2 linked regions of the Homo sapiens genome follow. The protein of the gene in region 1 purifies or fractionates together with the protein of each later gene. This does not show direct contact. Each region holds a gene or a part of one and is shown in the gene's direction. Other genes may lie near its edges.

Region 1 (4,023 bases):
GTTAGGCGACAAGTGAGAATGTACACTCTTGGCTGTTGCTTTAAAACAGCCTGCCATCCATGAGACTTTCTTGTTAAAGCATTCTGGATGCTTTCATTCCGGGGCTGCTCTAGCTCCTTGGAATGTTTCTGGATTTGTTTCTGAGCCTGTGGCAAGGCTTTAAAAGGGATACATCTCAATCGCGGGTGGACCTGTATGTCTTTGAGCTTCTGCTCATGCTGGGGCCCTTGCCTCTGGTGCCCCTTCCCTCATTCATATCTGCTTCGTGAGAAACCAGACCCTCCTCGAGATCAGCTGCACTTCTTCTTCTGTAGAGCTCCCCCAACAAATTTCCCCAGGTAGGCTTCCTCTCCCTCTGCCCCCATGGTACCTCCCAAACAATGTGGACCCACAGGTCAGAGTTGGTTGTTTGCATTTCTGCTTCTCCAGCCAACTTGTAACATCTGTGAGGGTAGAGATCACCGGTTATTCATTTTAGGGTCTGGCGCAGAGCAGCAGCTCCATAAATATTTGATGACTTCATTTGATTTTTGGAAATAGCTCAGATCAGTGGGCTTTGGGTCTAGTGAAGAGTGGATGACCAATTTGGGCTTGGCCATTTGGTCAAAGCCAATGTTTTATTAGGGAGCCCGAGGCACATTTTCTTACAGCTGGCTCTGAAGCCATGGCTCCCCTGGAATAATAAGTCCAACAGGGATCCTTAGTTGGGGAAATGCTCCTTTACATGTCTTGGGGGATTTTTAAAATGTTCGTCTGATGACTTTCACCCCTGCCCTCCTCACTCCTTTTGTATAAAGTATTTCTTTAAAGTGGATGGGGGACCCCCAGATGCCTGATTTGCAGGTATGGTGAATGGGGCATAGCAGTGCCCTGTATTTATGCCTGGTCTTCTTAGCCAGGTGTCCTGGAACTGAACACCAGGGGCCTGTTTGCAGAATATCCAGGCACACGGGCTCCTTCAACTTGAAGCACCTAAATGTGTGATGTGACCCCATTTTTGGTTGAATTTTGGTTTGCAGATGTCAAAGATTCAAGGAAAATTTATGGGAGAAAACAGAACCTTCTGTTTCTTGGCTTAGTTTTTTTCAGCACGTTTTATAAAATGCTGTCATTTTTAACACTTTGTGGCCAATTTCAGCAAGCAAGCATAGAATCCTAAGTTAAGGTAGACATCGATCCTCAGTGTTCATATTCCCACGTTTCCATATTTCTGAAATCAGGATGCCCCTTACAGTAGATTTGTTCTTCTAGTGAACTTTTTCTCCCTCTTATTTCTTCTCCAAAAGCTGTTATAAAATCGATGGTGCATCTATCAGTTGAAAGCATCTTGGGATTGAGTGTTGTTGTCCTCCTGGTGGGGAGGACTATGACCTGTGGGGGCTCCATGCTCTGTTTACCTCACTTTTCTCTGGGCTTGGCCCCCCCCCCCCCCCCCCCCGCCCTGTACAGTGAAGGCAGGACTTCACCTTGGGAAGAAACATCTGGAACTCTGACTTAGTCCTACTTTCCTGCCATGTCTGTGTGTAGGTTTTGTAATTTTGCTGTGGCCTCTCTAAAAGGGGCAAGTAGCCCGTGGGAGGGAGGTGAAGTCCTGTAAATGGGGGAGGGGGGTCTCTTCAGTACAGCCACATGCATGAGCTGGCCCGACAACAGCGGAGCACCAGTTTGACATTTCCAAGGGTAGAATGAGCAGAGCATAGTCGGAGAGCCAAGGCACGGCTCCCCTCTCTGCTCCACCAGTTAATCATTTTGTGGTGTTTGCCAAAGTACTTCATTTCCTTGCACCGTATTTTCCTTACCTGTAAAGGTGAGATGATAATATATTGATGATGATGATTGAAGATGATGATGCATAGGGTTCTTGTGAAAGTTGTGAGAGATGTAAGAAAAAAGTTTTGTAAAGGGCAAAGTTCTTTTCACTTGCAGCATGTTATTTGTGCATCATCTAGTCCAAGGATGGTAAATAAGTAGCATACATGCTGCCATTCCCCATCCTCTAGCCTGTGGCAGACATCACTAATTGACCATGGTAGTCCTTTCCATTGAGTATGGCCAGCGGCCTCAGAGTCCTTAGTATTATATAATGCTACCCATCAGTTGGGCTTAGATGGGACATGAAGCCAGTTTGTCCTTCCTTATCGACACACACACACACGCACCCCATGGGACATGAAGCCAGTTTTTCCTTCCTTATCGAGACACAAACACACAGAGAGAGAGAGAGAGAGAGAGAGAGAGAGAGAGAGAGACAGAGAAACTGAGGCCTTGGGAAGAAGGTGGAGTGACTTACCCAAGACCTCAGTGAACAAGCGGAAGTGGGACTAAAAGCCTCAGATTTCTTCACTCCTCAACCAGTGCTTTTCCTGCCCTGTGTGTATACACTGTATCAAAAGGAATTAAAATTAATTTGGTCTTGAGAAATAGCGAGAGAATCCTGACTCCTCCCTTCCCTGTTATAATTAGATACCCTTGGGGTTGTCATCAAAGCAGGGCTGGATGACCTGCTTCTCTGCCTGATCCTGGAGTGATCAGGTTTCAAAGGGGAGACGCCTGTGGCTAGGCAGCTGGATTGGATGGTGTCTCTCAGCAGTGTAAGTGACGTGGCAGTGGGGCAAGGCAGGCCCTGGGGTTCCTGGATGATGACCTGGGTTTGGGACAGGTTTGCTGCTTACACACTTTCAAGTCCACAGACAAGTTCTTTAGTCCTTCCGTATCTTAATTTCTGCATCTGAGAAATGGGCTGGTAATGATTCTTCACAGGAATGACATAAGATAACAAGTTTGAAAATGCTTTGTAAACTCTTGACATACATGTTACTTTTTAAATACACGTTACTTTTTATAACTAGTACGAATTATTAGTGCTATGCTGGGTAAGTTGTGTAAACTGAGTCACAGACTAAGGGCCACAAGATGAGTGGGTCCCTTCTCTTGTATGTTATTTTATCTTTTTGCCAGCCCAGGGTTCAGAAAGTTTGGAGTTTGTGAGTCTTTCACAGATTCTTTCCTGTTTGCATCTGTCCCCAGCCTCATCCTGTTTCAATCATGTATGTGGCCTGCCTAGCCCTGGAAGGCCTTGGGGTCTGGGACCCCGACACAGCCTCTACTTGTTCATCTGTTTAGTGGGAGGACAGGCCATCCTTAAACCCTTCCAGGCTTTTTGAAAGCATCGTATGAGTTAATGGACTAGAAAGTGCTTCATGAACAGCAAAGAACTGGAGAAACATGTTGGCGACAACTCCTTTCTTAAAAAGGAAAGGAGGAAGGCTGAGGTGAGGATGGTATTGAGTCGACAAAAAAGTGATATAAATATTTTGGCTGACAAAGCAGAATGAGGCTTTCTATATAAGCTAAAGCGAATAAATGGAGTCAGGTGATGCTTGGCCCCCCAGTCTGCTATAGAAAACACAGGGAAAAACATTGCTTTCTAGTGAAGTGAGCCCTTTGTCAGGGGTGAATCTTTGATTACCAGGGGTCAGCCCTGTTCCTGGGTGAGGACCCAGGGAGGAATGAAACCTGGTGTCTCCCCCAGGGGTGGAAATGGCTCCTGCAAAGTGGAGGAGGCCTGAGTATCTCTTGGCAAGTCCCTGGCTCGCAGTTTGCTGGTAGCACTCAAAGTCAAAAGTGCTTTTGGCTTGCTTACTGGATGTGTTACTGTCCAAGACAGCATATCTGAGGAGCTAGCCATTCTTACCTCTCAGCTTTGAGCCTGTGCCATACAAATTCCTGCCTGTCCCAACATTTTTGTGGAAAATTGGGGGACTAAGGGTGGGAATTTTTGTCAGGTGAAAGTTTGCAGAGAATTTGTGTTTTGTTTTATTTTGGACTCAGAGTTTTTGCAAGCGAAGAAGATGTAGTCGGGGAACTTAGAATACTCAAAAAGAATAAAAGAATAGACGAAGACATTTTTGGATGTTGGGGAATTTTTTTTTTCCTTAATTTCATCAACTGGGAAAAATAACTATAAACATTTAATTGTGTTTATGTGGGTGTTTCTTAAAATGTATGCTGGAAAAGCAGAAA
Region 2 (3,500 bases), about 11 Mb from region 1:
ATTGTTAAAAAATGATTAGCTCAAGCTGGGTGTGGTGGCTCTCACCTGTAATCCCAGCACTTTGGGAGGCCAAGGTGGGTAGATCGTTTGACATCAGGAATTTGAGACCAGCCTCAGCAACATAGTGAGACCCCCAACTGCCCCATATCTATTAAAAAAAAAAAAAATTGGCCGGGTGCGGTGGCTTACGCCTGTAATCCCAGCACTTTGGGAGGCCGAGGCGGGCGGATCACCTGATGTCCAGAGTTTGAGACCAACCTGACCAACATGGAGAAACCCCATCTCTACTAAAAATACAAAATTAGCCAGGTGTGGTGTCACATGCCTGTAATCCCAGTTACTTGGGAGGCTGAGGCAGGAGAATTGCTTGAACCCGGGAGACAGAGGTTGCGATGAGCTGAGATTGCACCGTTGCACTCCAGCCTGGGCAACAAGAGCGAAACTCCGTCTCAAAAAAAAAAAAAAAATCAGAAAAAATGATTAGCTGTTTTTAATGATCAGTTATATCACCTTGGGATGTTTAGCAATTCACTGTATAGAAATGCCTGAAATAAAATTTTTAACTTTTTTTAATGTTTATAAATTTAAAAAAATTATAATATGGAACACTTCACAAATTTGTGTGTCATCCTTGCACAGGTGCCATGCTAATCTTCTCTGTAGAGTTCCAATTTTAGTATATGTGCTTCTGAAGCGAGCACAAAATTTTTGACATGAAACAGTAGGTTTTTTTTTGTTTGTCTGTTTGTTTTGAGATAGTCTCACTCTGTCACCCAGGCTGGAGTACAGTGGTGCCATCTTAGCTCTCTGTAGCCTTTGAACTCCTGAGCTCAAGTGACCCTTCTGCCTCACCCTCCTGAGTAGCTGGGACTACAGGTGTGTACCAGCACACCTCGCTCATTTAAAAAATGTTTTTGTAGAGACAGGGTCTTGCTTTGTTGTCCAGGCTGGTCTTGAACTCCTGGCCTCAGGTAATCCTCCTATTTTGGCCTCTCAAAGTGCTGGGATCATAGGCGTAAGCTACTGTGCCTGGCCCATGAAACACTTAAATTTATTCTTATGGTAGATAATGTATTTGTAGTTTTTTTTGTTTGTTTTTTTTGTCATTCCAGTAGAGATCAAATTACATATTTTCAGAATCAGTAAAAAGGGGGCTTGTCCCAGATATTAAGAAGAGGATGTTGTAATAACTTTCATCATTAGCCTTTAAAAAGAGTGCAGTAACAAATTTTGCCAGTAAGGTACTTGTTCTATGAATTAGTATTTACTTTATCAAACCAGCTTATGTTAGGAATCATTTGCTTTTAAATCTAGGGAAAAAATTATACCTTGATTGCTTTGTGAACGCTATAAGGTAATGTTCTTAATATTAACTTAAGGCAATTTAATGAATGAGTCAGCTTTTACAAATTAATTTAAAAAGCTCTAAACAAATGAAAAGTACAATGTCAGAAACAAATGTATTGTGCTTTTTTTCCCTAATGTTGATATCTTATGTGTTAAAGAGAAATTAAAGCAAAAATTTATACTTTCTCTAACTCTTAATCTAAAAATAGTAAAAGCTGACATAAGGTACACATTTTTTGGGGGATACTATTTCATATGCCTGGTCAGGTGATATGAATAGTATTATGAAACAGATTTTTAGAACAGAATAGACGTGCTTGCTTTCATAGAGACGTATTTGTGAGTATCTGTCTGTAGCTTATGTCTCCCTACCACTGCTTTGGGTTGCAGGTAGGCCGCCTTTTGCAGCAGTTAGCAATGACTGGCTCTGAAGAGGGAGATCCCCGAACAAAGAGCAGCCTTGGAAAGTTTGACAAAGTAAGAATAAATATGATTTATAGAAAATTCTGAAGTATTAGTGAGCCTAACTGTTCTCTTTATTAAATCTTGTCCTTAGGTGATATCTAAATTAAATGTTCTTTTAATTAGCTACAGTATTGGATCAGCAGCATTTAAAGATGATTAATTCCCACAGATGTATTGAGGAGATGCCGTCGTAAGAGAATCAAAGAGCTGTTAAGATTATTTTATTTTAAAAAGTTTTTTTTTTTTTTTTTTTTGAGATGGAGTCTCGCTCCGTCGCCCAGGCGGAGTGCAGTGGCATGATCTTGGCTCACTGCAACCTCTGCCTCCGGGTTCAAGCAACTCTCTGCCTCAGCCTCCCCAGTAACTGGGATCACAGGTGCCTGCCACTACACCCGGCTAATTTTTGTATTTTTAGTAGAGACGGGGTTTCACCTTCTTGGCCAGGCTGGTCTTGAACTCATGGCCTCGTGATCCACCTGCCTCGGCCTCCCAAAGTGCTAGGATTACAGGCGTGAGCCACCGCGCCTGGCCAACTTTTAAATTTTCGAGTCAGTGTCTCACTCTGTTGCCCAGGCTGGAGTGCAGTGGTGTGATCATGGCTCAAACTCCTGGGCTCATGCAGTCCTTGCACCTTAGCCTCCCAAGTACCTGGGCTATAGGGGCACACCACCATGCCCGGCTAAGTGTTTTTATTGTTATAGAGACGAGGTCTTGTTATGTTGCCCAGACTGGTCTTGACTCCTGGCCTCAAGTGATCCTCCTGCCTCAGCATTCCAGCGTGCTAGGATTACAGATGTCAGCCACCATGCCTGGTCGATAATTGTTTAATTTTAAGTGTAGTTTATAAGTTAACATCTATGACATTGTTCAATTAATATAGTTAAATAAAATTTTAATCAGTCTTACTTTGATTAAGCTGTACATTCAACCAATGAAAATTCAAGGATATTTGAGTAAAATTTCCCTTCCACGTCTCATCTCTAGTCTTCATTCCCTGCCCCCACAAAACATTCTTTTTTTTTTTGAGACAGAGTTTCCTTCTTGTCACAGAGGTTCGCTGTTGTCACCCAGGCTGGAGTGCAGTGGCGTGATCTCGGCTCACTGTTAACTCTGCCTCCCAGGTTCAAGCAATTCTCCTGCCTCAGCCTCCGAGTAGCTGGGATTATAGGCGTGAGCCACCACGCCTGGCCCCCAAAAGATTCTTGATGTTATTAGGTTGTTTTTCCTTCTAGAGGTCCATATGTTTACAGGCAAATTCCTACGTACACTATATACTTCCAACCATCCCTTCCTTTCCCTTTCAGAAATAGTAGCACAATGTGTATACTGTTCTGTGTTGTGTTATGTTTGTCTCCAACATCTTATTGTTATTTTCTTTTTTTTTTGAGACAGGGTCTCACTTTGTCACCCAGTGATGCCATCTCAGCTCACTGCAGCCTCGACCTCCCTGGCGCAAGCAGTCCTCCCACCTCAGCTTCCCAAGTAGCTGGGACTGCAGGTGCGCGCCACCACACCTGGCTAATTTTGGTATTTTTCATAGAGACAAGGTTTTGCCCTGTTGCCCCAAGTGGTTTTGAACTTCCGAGCTCAAGCAGTCCACCCACCTTGGCCTCCCAAAGTGCTGGGATTGCAGGCATGCACTACCACACCCAGCTCCAAGATCTTAGACTATATCAGTACAAAAAGAG

What was found.
Region 2: the proteins of ZNF618 (region 1) and GAPVD1 purify together in Homo sapiens (affinity purification with mass spectrometry, with the first as the bait; one large-scale study listed by BioGRID). This does not show direct contact.

What each region holds. Positions count from the first base shown.
Region 1 is NC_000009.12:113,882,565-113,886,587, forward strand, and holds part of ZNF618 (zinc finger protein 618), read left to right. Parts: intron 1-4,023. UniProt on the Homo sapiens protein: Regulates UHRF2 function as a specific 5-hydroxymethylcytosine (5hmC) reader by regulating its chromatin localization.
Region 2 is NC_000009.12:125,303,326-125,306,825, forward strand, and holds part of GAPVD1 (GTPase-activating protein and VPS9 domain-containing protein 1), read left to right. Parts: intron 1-1,737; coding exon 1,738-1,824; intron 1,825-3,500. UniProt on the Homo sapiens protein: Acts both as a GTPase-activating protein (GAP) and a guanine nucleotide exchange factor (GEF), and participates in various processes such as endocytosis, insulin receptor internalization or LC2A4/GLUT4 trafficking.